Linked DNA regions of Homo sapiens. The gene in region 1 interacts genetically with each later gene. Each region holds a gene or a part of one and is shown on either strand. Other genes may lie near its edges.

The links.
Region 2: changes in ETAA1 (region 1) and PTPRF are lethal when combined (synthetic lethality), as found in Homo sapiens cells (one large-scale study listed by BioGRID).
Region 3: changes in ETAA1 (region 1) and FAM3B are lethal when combined (synthetic lethality), as found in Homo sapiens cells (one large-scale study listed by BioGRID).
Region 4: changes in ETAA1 (region 1) and VEZF1 are lethal when combined (synthetic lethality), as found in Homo sapiens cells (one large-scale study listed by BioGRID).

What each region holds. Positions count from the first base shown.
Region 1 is NC_000002.12:67,409,961-67,412,589, reverse strand, and holds the end of ETAA1 (ewing's tumor-associated antigen 1), read right to left. Parts: coding exon 2,552-2,629; 3' UTR 501-2,551; downstream 1-500. UniProt on the Homo sapiens protein: Replication stress response protein that accumulates at DNA damage sites and promotes replication fork progression and integrity.
Region 2 is NC_000001.11:43,596,883-43,600,382, reverse strand, and holds part of PTPRF (receptor-type tyrosine-protein phosphatase F isoform 1 precursor), read right to left. Parts: intron 2,636-3,500; coding exon 2,330-2,635; intron 1,664-2,329; coding exon 1,470-1,663; intron 1-1,469. UniProt on the Homo sapiens protein: Possible cell adhesion receptor. It possesses an intrinsic protein tyrosine phosphatase activity (PTPase) and dephosphorylates EPHA2 regulating its activity.
Region 3 is NC_000021.9:41,344,301-41,347,800, reverse strand, and holds part of FAM3B (protein FAM3B isoform a precursor), read right to left. Parts: intron 3,326-3,500; coding exon 3,267-3,325; intron 2,116-3,266; coding exon 2,065-2,115; intron 1,593-2,064; exon of another isoform or gene 1,394-1,592; intron 789-1,393; coding exon 701-788; intron 1-700. UniProt on the Homo sapiens protein: Induces apoptosis of alpha and beta cells in a dose- and time-dependent manner.
Region 4 is NC_000017.11:57,978,255-57,981,754, forward strand, and holds part of VEZF1 (vascular endothelial zinc finger 1), read right to left. Parts: intron 2,551-3,500; coding exon of another isoform or gene 2,533-2,550; coding exon 2,349-2,532; intron 1,060-2,348; coding exon 898-1,059; intron 1-897. UniProt on the Homo sapiens protein: Possible transcription factor. Specifically binds to the CT/GC-rich region of the interleukin-3 promoter and mediates tax transactivation of IL-3.

The DNA of each region.
Region 1 (2,629 bases):
TGAGAGATAAGCTCCGCTTTCAACAGGCTCTTTTTGGAAATAATGGCATTATTAGCATCAGTCTGAGATGCAGAAACAGCAGCGGAACTTTAGGGGGAAATTGCCAGGCTACCAGTTGTCCCTTCCCCAGATTCCCTATAGACTAGGAAAGAGAAAAGCCAGGCAAACTATATAGTCAGCCCTCTGCATGCTCATTTATGGGCCATTCACCCCCTAATGTTTCCAACAAGGGCTAAAGGAAGAGTCAGGATAGGAAAGGAGAGTGGTATGAACAGGAGCAGTGACCCTAAAAACCAGTCATGTGAGGTTCAGATGTACAGGGCCATTACACCTGCCACCACCCAGAAGTGCTATAAAAGTTTTTTTTTTTTTTTTTTTTTTAAAAAAAGGGAGTCACTTAGAGAAAACTATTACGTAAATAATACTATGAGCTGTATAAGAATTTGGCAGAATTACCAGAGACACAAAATGACAAATTATAAAATAAGATTTATACAACTAAACAACACATAAAGGCATTATAGTATTGCTCAATGAAAGACACAATAATTAGTACCATTATGATCAGAGAGAAGCAATCAATTCCAGTGAAGATGGTTAGGTACGAGGTTCAAACAGACTTATTAGGCTGAGTCTAAATGAATGAACAGAATAGGCTAAAAGTACTCTTAAAAAAGCAAGCAGTAAGCAGGGAGGAGCTTAAGCAAGGACAGAGATATCCAAAGCATAGTCAGAACACAGTGAAGCCACTTTTAGTAAAAGATTCTCAGCTCTTTATTTTTGTACATAGAAACTACTTGCATTTATCTAGGTTATTATATATTCCTGGAAAAATAATATAGGTTAGCTAAACTCCAGTACTCCACTGTAGATATGAAAATACCATTTTTGATGTACAGTCTCCAACTTAAAATGGTTGACTTACAATTTTTCAACTCTAACGTGATGCAAAAGTGATATGCGTCCAATAGAAACCATACTTTAAAGTTTGATTCTTTCCCAGGCTAGAGATATGTGGTACAACATTCTCACGATGCTGGGCATCAGCTCAACTGATACTCTACAGTGTGCCGTATTGCCAGATGATGTGCCCAACTCTAGGCTAATATAAGTGATTTGAGCATGTTTAAGGTAGGCTAAGCTAAGCTATGTTGTCTGGTAGATTAAGTGTAGTAAATGCATTTTTAACTTAAGGTATTTTCAACTCATGATGGGTTTATTGGGATGTAACTACACGGTAAGTTGAGGAGTATCTGTATAGCTATAGGGCAGTAACTACCATATTATCACAGCTTTGAGACACTTGATAGTGATAAATGCCACACCATGACAGGTGTTTCATATCTCTAACTTTCTCTAGATCTCCTAAAACCATTTAAGAGGAATAAAGCATCCTCCCTGCCTTACGCCCTCTAGTTGGACTTCTATTACTGGTTTAGCAAATTCCAAATAGGCAAAATGGCAAAAAAAGAAAAAAACAAAACAGTAATAGAGAAGAAAAGATGAGTCAACTAAGTAAATTAATTGAGGGGAAAATTACAGTTACAGAAAAACTGAAAAGAAAAAAGATTCTCATTTTTATATCCTGGAAAGACTAATTCTTTAAAGCAAAATAAGGAACAATGAGCATTATTATCAAACAGTCCTTATTGTGCTTTTAATTACATCTTTTGTTTTATACTAGAAAATAATACTCCCTCAAGTTATTTTATGTACTGATACTTTGAAACAAATAGTATAATTGTTTAGGTGTCCAAATAAATCATTCTAATTGTAGCACAGCATTAACTTGCCTATGACTTTGAAAACAGTATTACTTTTTCTCACCGATACAATAAGGAAGCTGGACCAGATGACATATGAAGTTTCTGCCAGTTCTAAATGTTAATGATGCCACATTACTTTTGTAGACAATCCACTACTTCTTTTCCTCTATGTTAGACTTCTAAAATCAAAGTTTTCCTAAATATGGTGGAAAGTTTCCAAAATGTGTCACATTTTAGAATTATTAAAATTCAAATCCACTTCTAAGAACTGAACATAATTTCCTTACAAATAAAAAGTCCTTTATTTCATATCAACCATGTTCCTAGAAATATGAAAGTATTAATTAAAATCTGGAAGTGTATAAAAACCTTAAGCAACAGTTAATGAAAGTAAAACTACAAAAACAGTCTCTACTAACTTAGAAAGTTGAAGTTTTTTATTAGGAAAAGACATTAGAATAGGAAATAACGTAGATTACCTCTTTTTTGATGATCCTCTGCAATAATAGCATTTAAAAATATAACTACTTTCCTCTGTATAATATCCGTACATAATTGCTAACTTTCCTGAATTTCCAAAACTTTTGTATTTAATGACTTTCAAATACATGTCCAAGGAAATGTTTCATTTACCATTGCAAACATTGATTTATTAAATAAAGTAGAAGTCCAGGCTTTATAAAAGTCAGCATTACATTTCTCACAGAGAAATCAAGAAAAAAAATTTCCTATCAATCACAGATAGTTATCAGCAGTCTTCGTGAAGTCTTCCAACTAATATTTCATTAAAGAAATGAAGTGGGAGCTGCATTTACAGATGAGGCTCGTGCTTTAGCCATTCTCCGAACCAGTGCTTCTTGTCT
Region 2 (3,500 bases), on another chromosome or scaffold:
AAATGGGCAGCGTCCCTGAGCCTCTGGCCCAGCTCCCTTCCGAACCTCTTGGGACCAGAAGGGGGCACTTGAAGTGGCTTCTCTGGAACCCCACTGGCCACAGCTGTGGCCACTGGCCCCCTCAGAGAGGAGGGGCTAGGGGAACCCATTCCTGGGATGTTTCTGGGTAGGTGTGTTCACTGAGGCTCCACAAGGAGCCCTCAACCTGCCCCAGGAATGCAGGTGGGTGCACATGCCTGCCTCCTCCACCCCGGATGCCTTAGCACTGGGCAGGCTGAGAGGGGGAAGAGAGCACCCTCTGGGCAGAAAGAATTTTGCTTCAGATGGCTGAGCCCAGCTGGAGGAATAAGGCTCCTGTCTGTGTGGGTGACCCCACCCCTCTGCACAGTGTGTACAGCATTGAGTGGTACACGCACCCCTGCTCTCCACCCAGGCAGAGGTGAGAGGCTCAATGGGGAGGCCCTGCTCCTGGATAGGGAGACCTTGAGAGCACCACACCAGGTGTTGTGACTCTCCAGCAGGGTCTTTTGGGAGGGGGCTCATGACAGCAACTGTGGCCCTTTCCTAGGGGTCCACAGACATGGCTTCTCATCCAAGCGCAGCAGCCACCTACTTGCTGAATAATTCCATACCACTCTCATAACCCCCCAGCATTCCAAGTTCTTCATCTGAATAGCAACCAGTGTTCAGAATACCCCAGGGACCTCACCCCAAGCTCAAGGGCAGGACCATCCTCCCAGGAAGACAGATGTGCACAGAGGGAGGTGTGAGGCTGGCCAGCAGGCCTAGCTCTTGAGGGTGAACATCAGGGGCTGAATCGTTCCCTGCAGGGCCAGGAGCAGGGCAACACTCTACTTGGCTACTCACAGAGCTTTGCAGCAACCACGGACCCATGGCCGCCAGTGGGGTAAGACAGCCCTGGAGCACTCTCTCTACCCTTTCTGTGGGAAGAGTGGATGCCAGCCCAGCACTGTCTAGGGGAAAGGCACATCTCAAAACCCCGACCTGGTGGGGCACAGTGGCTAACACCTGTATTCTCAGCACTCTGGGAGACTGAGGCAGGCGGATCACCTGAGGTCAGGAGTTCGAGACCAGCCTGGCCAATATGGTGAAACCCTGTCTCTACTAAAAATACGAAAATTGGCTAGGCGCAGTGGCAGACGCCTGTAATCCCAGCTACTCGGGAGGCTGAGGAAGGAGAATTGCTTGAACCCAGGAGGCACTCCAGCCTAGGCGACAAGAGTGAAGCTCTATCTCAAAACAAACAAACAAACAAAAAACCCACACCCAAAAAACCCCAGCCTAACCCCTGATGCTGCAAAGCATCTCGGGTCTCACAACCAAGGAAAGGCAGTCACAGCACTGCTGAGGGCAGGCAGGGGAAGAGGGACATATCTGGGCCCCAAAAGGGAGCTTGTGCATGCTGGTCTGTGCTCACCCTGCCACCCCACCACCACCCAATGCTGCACCTGGGCCTCGGCTAGCATGACGTCTTGGATGATGGGGAGTCCACGGGGCTCGCCATTCTCCAGCCGCACGTAGGTGACCTGGTAGCCGCGGATCTGGCCATGCTGCTTGCTGGGGACAGGCAGCTTCCAGTAGACATGCACAGCAGTGGAGTTCAGTGGCTCCACCTCCACCTTCCGCGGAGGCCCGCTGGGCACTGGGGGGTCAGGTAGAGAAGGAAGTCAGGCCTGGAGGTATCAACCCTAGCTCAGGTGGGCACAGCAAACTTGAGGGTCCTGCCTCAGCACCCCACTCCCCCAGGAAAGGCCCTGATACAGTTTCCTTAGATCATCTGTCCCTGGTGAGGCACACGGAAGGCTCCCTCTGCCCGCCACGGGTAAGAGCCCAGGACTGGCCCTGCCCACCCCTCTGGCCCAGGCCTCTCACTTGGTGGGGAGGGTCGACATGGGGGAACAGGTGGAGGTGGGGCACCAGGTCTTTGACCACCCCTAGTCAGCACAACCTGTCCTGACTCCTCCTAGGCCCCAATCATGCCAATGTCCAGCCAACGTGGAGTCTTGCTGATTCTACTTTGAGTATCTTTTACACCAATCTGCCCAATCTTGACCTTTCAAATCTTAGACAGGGCTGCTTCTCCCATCTTAGCCTGTGAAGGTTTCAGCTGCTTTGGAGACAGCCCCAAAGGCTGGGATTTGGGCCTCAGTTATCCCGTAAGTGACATCCCCCCACTTTAGGCCATTACACCTGAACCAGAAAGATGAGTTGACCTGGGCCTGTGTTCAGGAAAGGAAGGCCCTGGGGAGCTTGGTGGGTGGTGTCTGAGGCAGAACGCCTCCCCTCCCGCCCCGGTGGCACTGCCTACCGTCCTCATCGGTGCGCACCAGCACCGGGCTGCTCTCGGGGCCGGGGCCCACGTCTGTGTGTGCCCGCACCCACACCCGGTACTCCGTCCACTTCTCCAGGCCCACCAGGTCCCAGCTGGAGTGCTCACGGCTGATGCCATCCACCACATGCCGCCCGCGGTCCTCGCCGTCCACCGCCTCGTAGGCCACGGAGTACTGGGTGATAACGCCGTTGCGGCTGTCGGCAGGCGGCGGGACCCAACTTACCCGGACCGTGGTGGAGCCCATGCTCACACACATCACCTTCTGGGGAGGGGCGGAGGGGGCTGGGGAAGACAAATGGGGGGGAAGCAAGCAGATGGAGGGTGGGGATCACAGGCACAATGACTGAGTCACAGTGGACTGGAGACTCACCCGGGCAGGCTACCCCTTAGGTGCTGAAATGGCCATCCCAGGGTCCCTCCAGGCAGGCTGCTGCCACTCTCGCCAAGGACACCTGACTCCCTCTGACCTGCCTCCCTCTCTCTCCTTCCCTCTCTCACACACACACACGGTGATACACACACAGTTATCACACACACTGACTCTCACACAGCCTCACACACAGTGTCAGTCTCAGTGCCTCACACACGTCTCACACAGTCACACGCTGTGTCACACACACAGGGTGTCTCATACATATACTGTCTTGGTGTCTCACAGTGTCTCTCACAGTGTCACACACATACATAGTGTCACATATACATAGTGTCTCACACATAGTCTCCACATATAGTGTCATATACAGTGTCACACATATACAGTGTCATATAGTGTTTCACACACACAGTCTCACACATATACAGTGTCATATACACTGTCTCATACGGTCTCACACATATACAGTGTCACATACACATAGTGTCTCACAGTCTCACGTATACATAGTGTCATATACACAGTGTCTCACACGTGTCTCTCACACAGTCTCTCACAGTAAATACACAGTCTCTCATGGTGTCTCACACACACACTGTCACATACATAGGCTGTCTCGCACATATACTGTCTTGGTGTCTCACAGTGTCACACACACACAATGTCTTGGAGTATCAGTGTCTCTCACACAGACTCACATATACACAGAGTATCACATACCCGTGTCTTGGTGTCTCACACATGGCATCTGACACACACTCTCACACACAATGT
Region 3 (3,500 bases), on another chromosome or scaffold:
TGTATGTGTGTATTTCTTTATTCTTTTCCTCTTTTTTTTTTTTTTTTTTTTGAGACAGTCTCGCTCTGTCACCGGGCTGGAGTGCAGTGGTGCAATCTTGGCTCACTGCAACTTCCGCCTCCTGGGTTCAAGCGATTCTCCTGCCTCAGCCTCCTGAGTAGCTGGGACTACAGGTGCATGCCACCATGCCTGGCTAATTTTTTAATTTTTAGTAGAGACAAGGTTTCACCATGTTGGCCAGGATGGTCTCGAACCCTTGACCTCGTGATCCGCCTGCCTCGGTCTCCCAAGTGCTAGGATTACAGGTGTGAGCCACTGCGCCCAGCCTCTTTTCCTCTTTCTATAGGGAAATTATCTCAATTTCCTTTCACATTGCTGTAACTATTAATGCCACCCTGGGTTTAGGCTTTCTGTCCGGAGGTTAGTTTGTCTGTCCTAATTATGGTCAACAGTGGCTTTGTCTTGATTCCTTGAAATACTCCTTTGATTTAGGTTCTAGTACTTCTGTGGTTAGTGATTTAATTTTTTTTTAAAGAAATGCCATCTATTTTGTCATGATCTTTCATTCTTTTTCCTTAGAGAAGTACTTTGCTCCTGGACTTTCTGCTTGTCCCCAGAGGATGTCACTGAGAGACCCTGGCAGCCTCTGCCCCAGCTGGCTTCTCTTGCCCACCGCTGTGACAGACCTACACCCACTCACCTTGTGCTTCCGTCGTCATAGGTCACCATGAAGAGCAGGGATTTTGGAGCAGCACTCTGAATAAACTTTGTCATCGGTCCAGAGTTATCTATTGGGGGATGCAAGTCAGTTTTAGGGTCTTTGCTGTTCACTGAGGCTCTGCCTTGGGTGCTGGGCTTCCTCCTGCACCTGCATTCTGTGTCCATTCTGAATCCTTGGGGGTCCCAGCGCTCGCTGCTCAACCCTGCAGATGGTGTGCTAGCTCTGGACGTGTGAACATTCACTGGGGTACCATAGGGACTATCTGAGGTGAGTGGCACAGCGTAGAAGGAAAAGAACCTAACACTTGCAATAGGTGTTCAGGGCAGTAGTGAAAGGGGGTCAAGATAAGGAGCTTTTTTGACCAACAAACAAGAGAAGTGGAGCCCCTGGTAGAAAAAAAAAACCCTCCTTAGAAATGAGATCACCAAACTCTTAACAAGCAGCAGCCTGTGTGGCACAGGTGGAGTGTTCTCTGTAGTCACTGATAAAGGGCCACACCCACACCCACACCACGACCACTGAGCAGAGTGGCCTTGCAAACACACCGACGTGTGCAGGAGAGAGACTCCCACAGAACTCAAATACGAGACATGTGGACCGTGGGCAAGTCTGTGCCAAGAGACTTATCTATGCCTTATAAAATAAAGGTAAACCTCAAACCCTGTTACTCACCGCTGCGGCTCATTATTTACTGTTCTGCTTAGGTTAACTGCAGAGTACAACTGTGTCCTTCTTATTGGGTGGGTGCAGGCGTTTTCTATTCTTCGTCTTCACTATCTTTATAAAAACTTGTTTTTGAAAGTCTCATTGATATATAAAAATAAGAGGGGATAGTATATCCTGGCCAACAACTGCAGTCAAGAGTCAGTGCCTAGAAAGGAGAGACCATCGAGAAAGACTGGGCACCCGTGGGTTCCGGGAATGCTTGCCCTGAGCCCAGCAGAGCACTGTGAGTCACCAGGAGTAATCGTGACAGCTTTCAAAGGATGATGATATTTAGGGCTGGATGCTGGTGGCTTTATTTTACATATAATGTATTTGGCTTTTTTTTTTTTTTAAAAAAAAGGCTTTTTCTCTTTCTTATTATATCATGAGAGCTAAAAAGAGAAAGACTGAGGAAAACTAACAGAAGAAAAGACATTTCTAGATGATGCCTTCAAATGTTCTATGAATTCAATTAGAGTTTAAGAGGATCTACATAAGACCACTCTAGATTACTCAGGAGAGCTGCTGGCGTTTTTCTAGTAGACAAAATAAAAATGGTTGACATTTTTCTTTGTGCTTTTTAATCTTAATTTTCTGTTTAAAATTCATTTGAATTTTAACAGAAAAAATTTTCTTACCACCTTCATACATATCAAAACATCGTGTTGCTGTCACATTCCCAGTTACATCTGAAAATAAAAGAAATGGTATTTTAAAAGAAAGTTCACAGAACTAGGGCGCACTTGTGGCACCAGGGCCTGGGGAAGGAAATATTTCTTCCCTGTCTATCTCCAGCAAACACCACTGATGTAATGACCCAGCCTGCAGAGACAGGGCGGGCCCCTTGAGGAGAGTCCCCAAAACCAGGTCAAAGGAAAGTGCTGGAAGCTGTGCTAGAACTTTCTTCCAGTTTGCTTTGGGTTACACCTGATGGAACACTAATACCTCCCCCACCCAACTCATCTCACAGAAACACCAGAGACCCCTCACTCAGGCCCACCCGCCTCATCCCACAGAAACACCAGAGCCCCCTCAGCCAGGCCCACCCGCCTCATCCCACAGAAACACCAGAGCCCCCTCAGCCAGGCCCACCCGCCTCATCCCACAGAAACACCAGAGCCCCCTCAGCCAGGCCCACCCGCCTCTTCCCACAGAAACACCAGAGCCCCCTCAGCCAGGCCCACCCGCCTCATCCCACAGAAACACCAGAGCCCCCTCAGCCTGCCCACTTCCTACTTTACAGCCTCCTTCAGGGCTGTCAGATTGGGAGCATTTTATCTTCACTTCCACAGCCCTCACGTCTCGGGGCTATGCGGCCCACTCACTCACAGGGACGTTGTGGGAAACCCTTTCCTTCTCCTCTGGGCCCCTCAAAGGCAACTGTGAGAGAGCTTTATTCCAGACCTAAGAGAAAGGCCAAGTTTTGTTTCCCACGAGGTTGCAGTGGCTTTTATCACACAGAAGGATGAGATGGTCTATGGTGTCAGCCCCTGAGCAGACACTGGGACTCTGGGAGCAAATGAGAGGCTCAGTCCAGGACCACAGGCTGCACCCCCTTGGCGGCCCTTCTGGTGTTAACCCTAACTTTGGCCTATCCCTCTGTTTTTTTCTTTTTTTAAAATAAAGTCTATATTTGGTTTTCAGTTGTTTATTTGTTGTTAGAACCACAAATAATCTGTGAAGTGAGACTTGTAAAAATAATTGAGTATATAATCTTAAAATGCATTAAAATACAAACCTAGACTAAATCACGCGCAAAAGTCTCGAAAACCCAAGGTACCTTTGAAAATCTGACCAGAGAGCTTTTAGAGAAGTTTAAAGAAAATGTTTAGTAACTTACAGTTGACAATGGCAATGTTTATTCCTCTGGCAACATTTCCCAGCTGTTCTCCCATAAGTCTGAAATGGAGCTAAGCATTAGTCAAGTACCAAGAGGCGTGCGACTCTCCCCGCTCCGCGAAGTCTTCGCCTGACCAAATGTCAGTCTCATCTGCTGTCCCCCACCTTTTCCTTGAAAGTCTGCATTCGCCTTGGTGCAGCTCCCGAGACCGCCACCCCCATGTTCATCCACACA
Region 4 (3,500 bases), on another chromosome or scaffold:
ACACTACATGAAAGCAAAAGATGGAAGAAACTACACAGAAAAGGAATTACATACAGAGGAGCCCACAGATAGAGGATTCCTTAACATTTAACATAGTAAGACATTGTAGAGGTGGAGGAGGAAGAAGGAATTTACAAATCTGTCCTTTGGCTCATGATACATTGACAAAATGATTCATTTGAAATGGCTGCACAATAGTCCAGAAGCCAAAGCTGTACTAGTAAGTTGAAAAGTACGTTGAAAACTGATACTCCAACTGATTCGTTAGAAAATATACACGAGAGAAAAGCAAACCATTTAAAATTTTTTAAACAATTACAGTAAAGTCCTCAGCAGCAGAAGACTAGATATGTTAAGGCCAGCCAGTGATAGACTGAAGGAGATTAAGGGTGTGACCAAGAGAAAAGACATCAACACTACAGAATCTGAAACATGTAATAAATAATACAATGAAAAAGAACACTACAGAGCAAAAATAGCACAGTTGTAAGAAAATGAACTTATGTACACACAAGGATATCCACCTCTAAAAGTGGGAATATTTTAGAAAGGAAAAAAAAAGCCCATAATGCATGGAGGTTGACATCAAATTGAATATAAAAATGCAACTCTGAGCATAGCAAAGGACCAAATTTGGATCCAGGTTTGTAGCAAAAAGTACATCAAAAGAAAGAACATGATAGGAAGTACTGAGAACTTTTAATTCCTAGTAATAACTTATCTGGACACTTTATTGCCAATAACTATACTTTACCAGATATTTCCCAGCATGCACTATTTCCATGTTTCCATTAAGCTAGATTTCCTAAAACTGTGGCTTCTCTACTTTGATCACTTGGCATACTAAATGAAAACACTTCTCTAGCCATATTTTCAACACTGGAAGCTGTGCCTTACCTTTCTTCCTTGCTTTAACAGCTTCTTCCCACAGTCTCAGTGTTTCTACTTGCTTCCCTGGCCAGCTTGTCACATGTTGTTGTTGTTGTTGTTGCTGCTGCTGCTGCTGCTGCTGCTGCTGCTGCTGCTGCTTTTGGTTACTGGTCTCTTCACTCATGCATGCTATTACAAAGACAAACCAAAAACACTGTATCTACCTGTAAAACTGTTGCCGTTTTTTTTCAAAATTGACTTCTCATGCTTCTGTGATCTTAACCATTTAACCTGATAGCTCTTAGTAAGTGCATCTTTTTTGCTGCTGTGTCTATATTGGTCAAAATAAACAAGCACTAAAAAGTCTAGAGAACTAGCAAAAATCAATATAAAAGAGAAAAGGACTCTTTGCTATAAAAAAAAAACCATCAAAAAAAAAAAAAGCAAGTGTCTTTAAAAATGGAAGTTTGATATTATTAATATAGGACTAATCAACATTCAACAAAATTTTTTATTTGATCACAATAATGTACACTAAAAGTGAATGTTTATAGGCCGGGTGCAGTGGCTCATGCCTGTAATCCTAGCACTTTGGGAGGCCGAGGCAGGTGGACTGTCTGGGCTCAGGAGTTCGAGACCAGCCTGGGCAACACGGTGAAACGCCGTCTCTATGAAAATACAAAAAAAGTAGCAAAGGTAATCGGGCATGGCAGTGTGCACCTGTAATCCCAGTTACTTGGGAGGCTGAGGCAGGAGAATCGCTTGAACCCAGGAGGCGGAGGTTGCAGTGAGCCGAGATCGTGCCATTGCACTTCAGCCTGGGCAACAGTGTGAAGACTCCGTCTCAAAAAAAAAAAAAAAAAAAAACAAAAAAAACAGAAGTGAATGCTTATAAAGTACAACATACCAGTGTACTTACAAAGAAGTGTACTTACAAACCCAGTGTACTTACAAAGAAGTAAAAATGGATAGATTAACACACATTAAGCTTTCTTCCCCATTCTCTTGTGGCCACCTATTTTTTTGAGAATTTGATGTTTCTACTGCATAAAGTACATATATAATAGAATAAAGGATTAGGAAAATGCCTTCTTCTAGTGGTTAGGGCAATCTTAAAAGAAAAAGCCTGGGTAAATGCAAGTATTCTATCTTCAACTCTGAATTTAAGGCAAGCAAAGCATTTAAACCTTCAAGTGGATATGATATCTCATTTCTCTACAGATTTGGGTTTGAAAAGCAAGCTTATTAATACTGCTTTCACCTTAAAGGTTATTATTAGCTTATCAATGCTGTTTGCATACATGAAAGTAAAGCATAGTTCTGACATTAATATACTCTGTCCATTGTTGCCTGTTTGCACATGTTGGCAATAGGAGGAAACACGTAAGGTGAATATTAATACCTTTGATACAATATGAAAACATGCATATTTCACCCATCTGAAATATAAAAGAAAGAAAATCTGAAGCACCACCTACTTTTACTGATGCCTTGTTTACATGTATTACAGTTGATACTTTGGCTCTGCCCATGAGTCTTTAAGTGGCTGGTGATGTATGCTGCACTCAGGAGCTTCCCACAGATGTTACATGATACCTTGCCTTCATGGCGCACCATGTGTGTCCGCAGTCTGTCTTTGGTGGCAAAGGCAGCAGTGCACGTCTGCATGAGGGAGGAAAACTTTTTTTAAATATAGACTATCCTGTTCTACTCATTTTGAAGTACGTTATATTCTGTGCATTACCCTATCCACATCAGCAAGCTGACAACTAGTTGAATTTTAATTGCATATGTTACCTAGAATCATAATCATAATAAAACTCTTGATAAATTTTAGACTCTTCCATTTTGAAGGAAGAAAATACATCAACACAGAGTAGCACAAAAAATGTAAGCTTTAGGGTAAGTTAAACCTGGGTTTAAGTTGAGCTCCACAATTTACTAAATGGTGTAATGTTGAACAAGTTGGTTAACCTATCTGAAAGCTTCTTCATCTGTAAAATGGGGATAACATCTCTCACAAAATTACTGGTGGATTAAGAAAAGCCTGGTATACACAGCAGGCACTCACTCAATGACACTAGCTTCCTTCCTCCAATTAGATCTTTCTTAGCATTCAAATCATTTACTTAATAAAATCAGTCATTAACAAACTTAACTGAAAGGTGTACTAAAAGACTTCCAGCAACAAACTAAAATTACCAATGCCTAAAACAGTCATTTGATTTAGCAAAATTCTTAATGTTTTCGTTATTATAATTGATGTCAAATAAAATCATTAACTGGAATAGATTTTTAAACAACTAGAAAGTGTTCCAATTTGGTAATAACAAACAAAAATCTAGTAAGTGGTAACATTTGGGAGAAAAATTCATTATTTTCTCCTATTACAGTTAAAACAACTTCAATAATCAACCCAGAAATTAAAGCCCTTTATTCTTTTATTCATTTCAAATACACAACCACCTTTGCAAGACTGTAACTTTTTTTTCCTAACAAAAAATACTATTGCCCAAAGAAAGGGAAATATAGCTTAAAAAAAACAACACGCTTAAATTTTTAAATGATCTTGCTTTACAGAAACAGAAGCTGTCAGTTATATTTTATAAAACTAGAAGTCAAATGGGCCA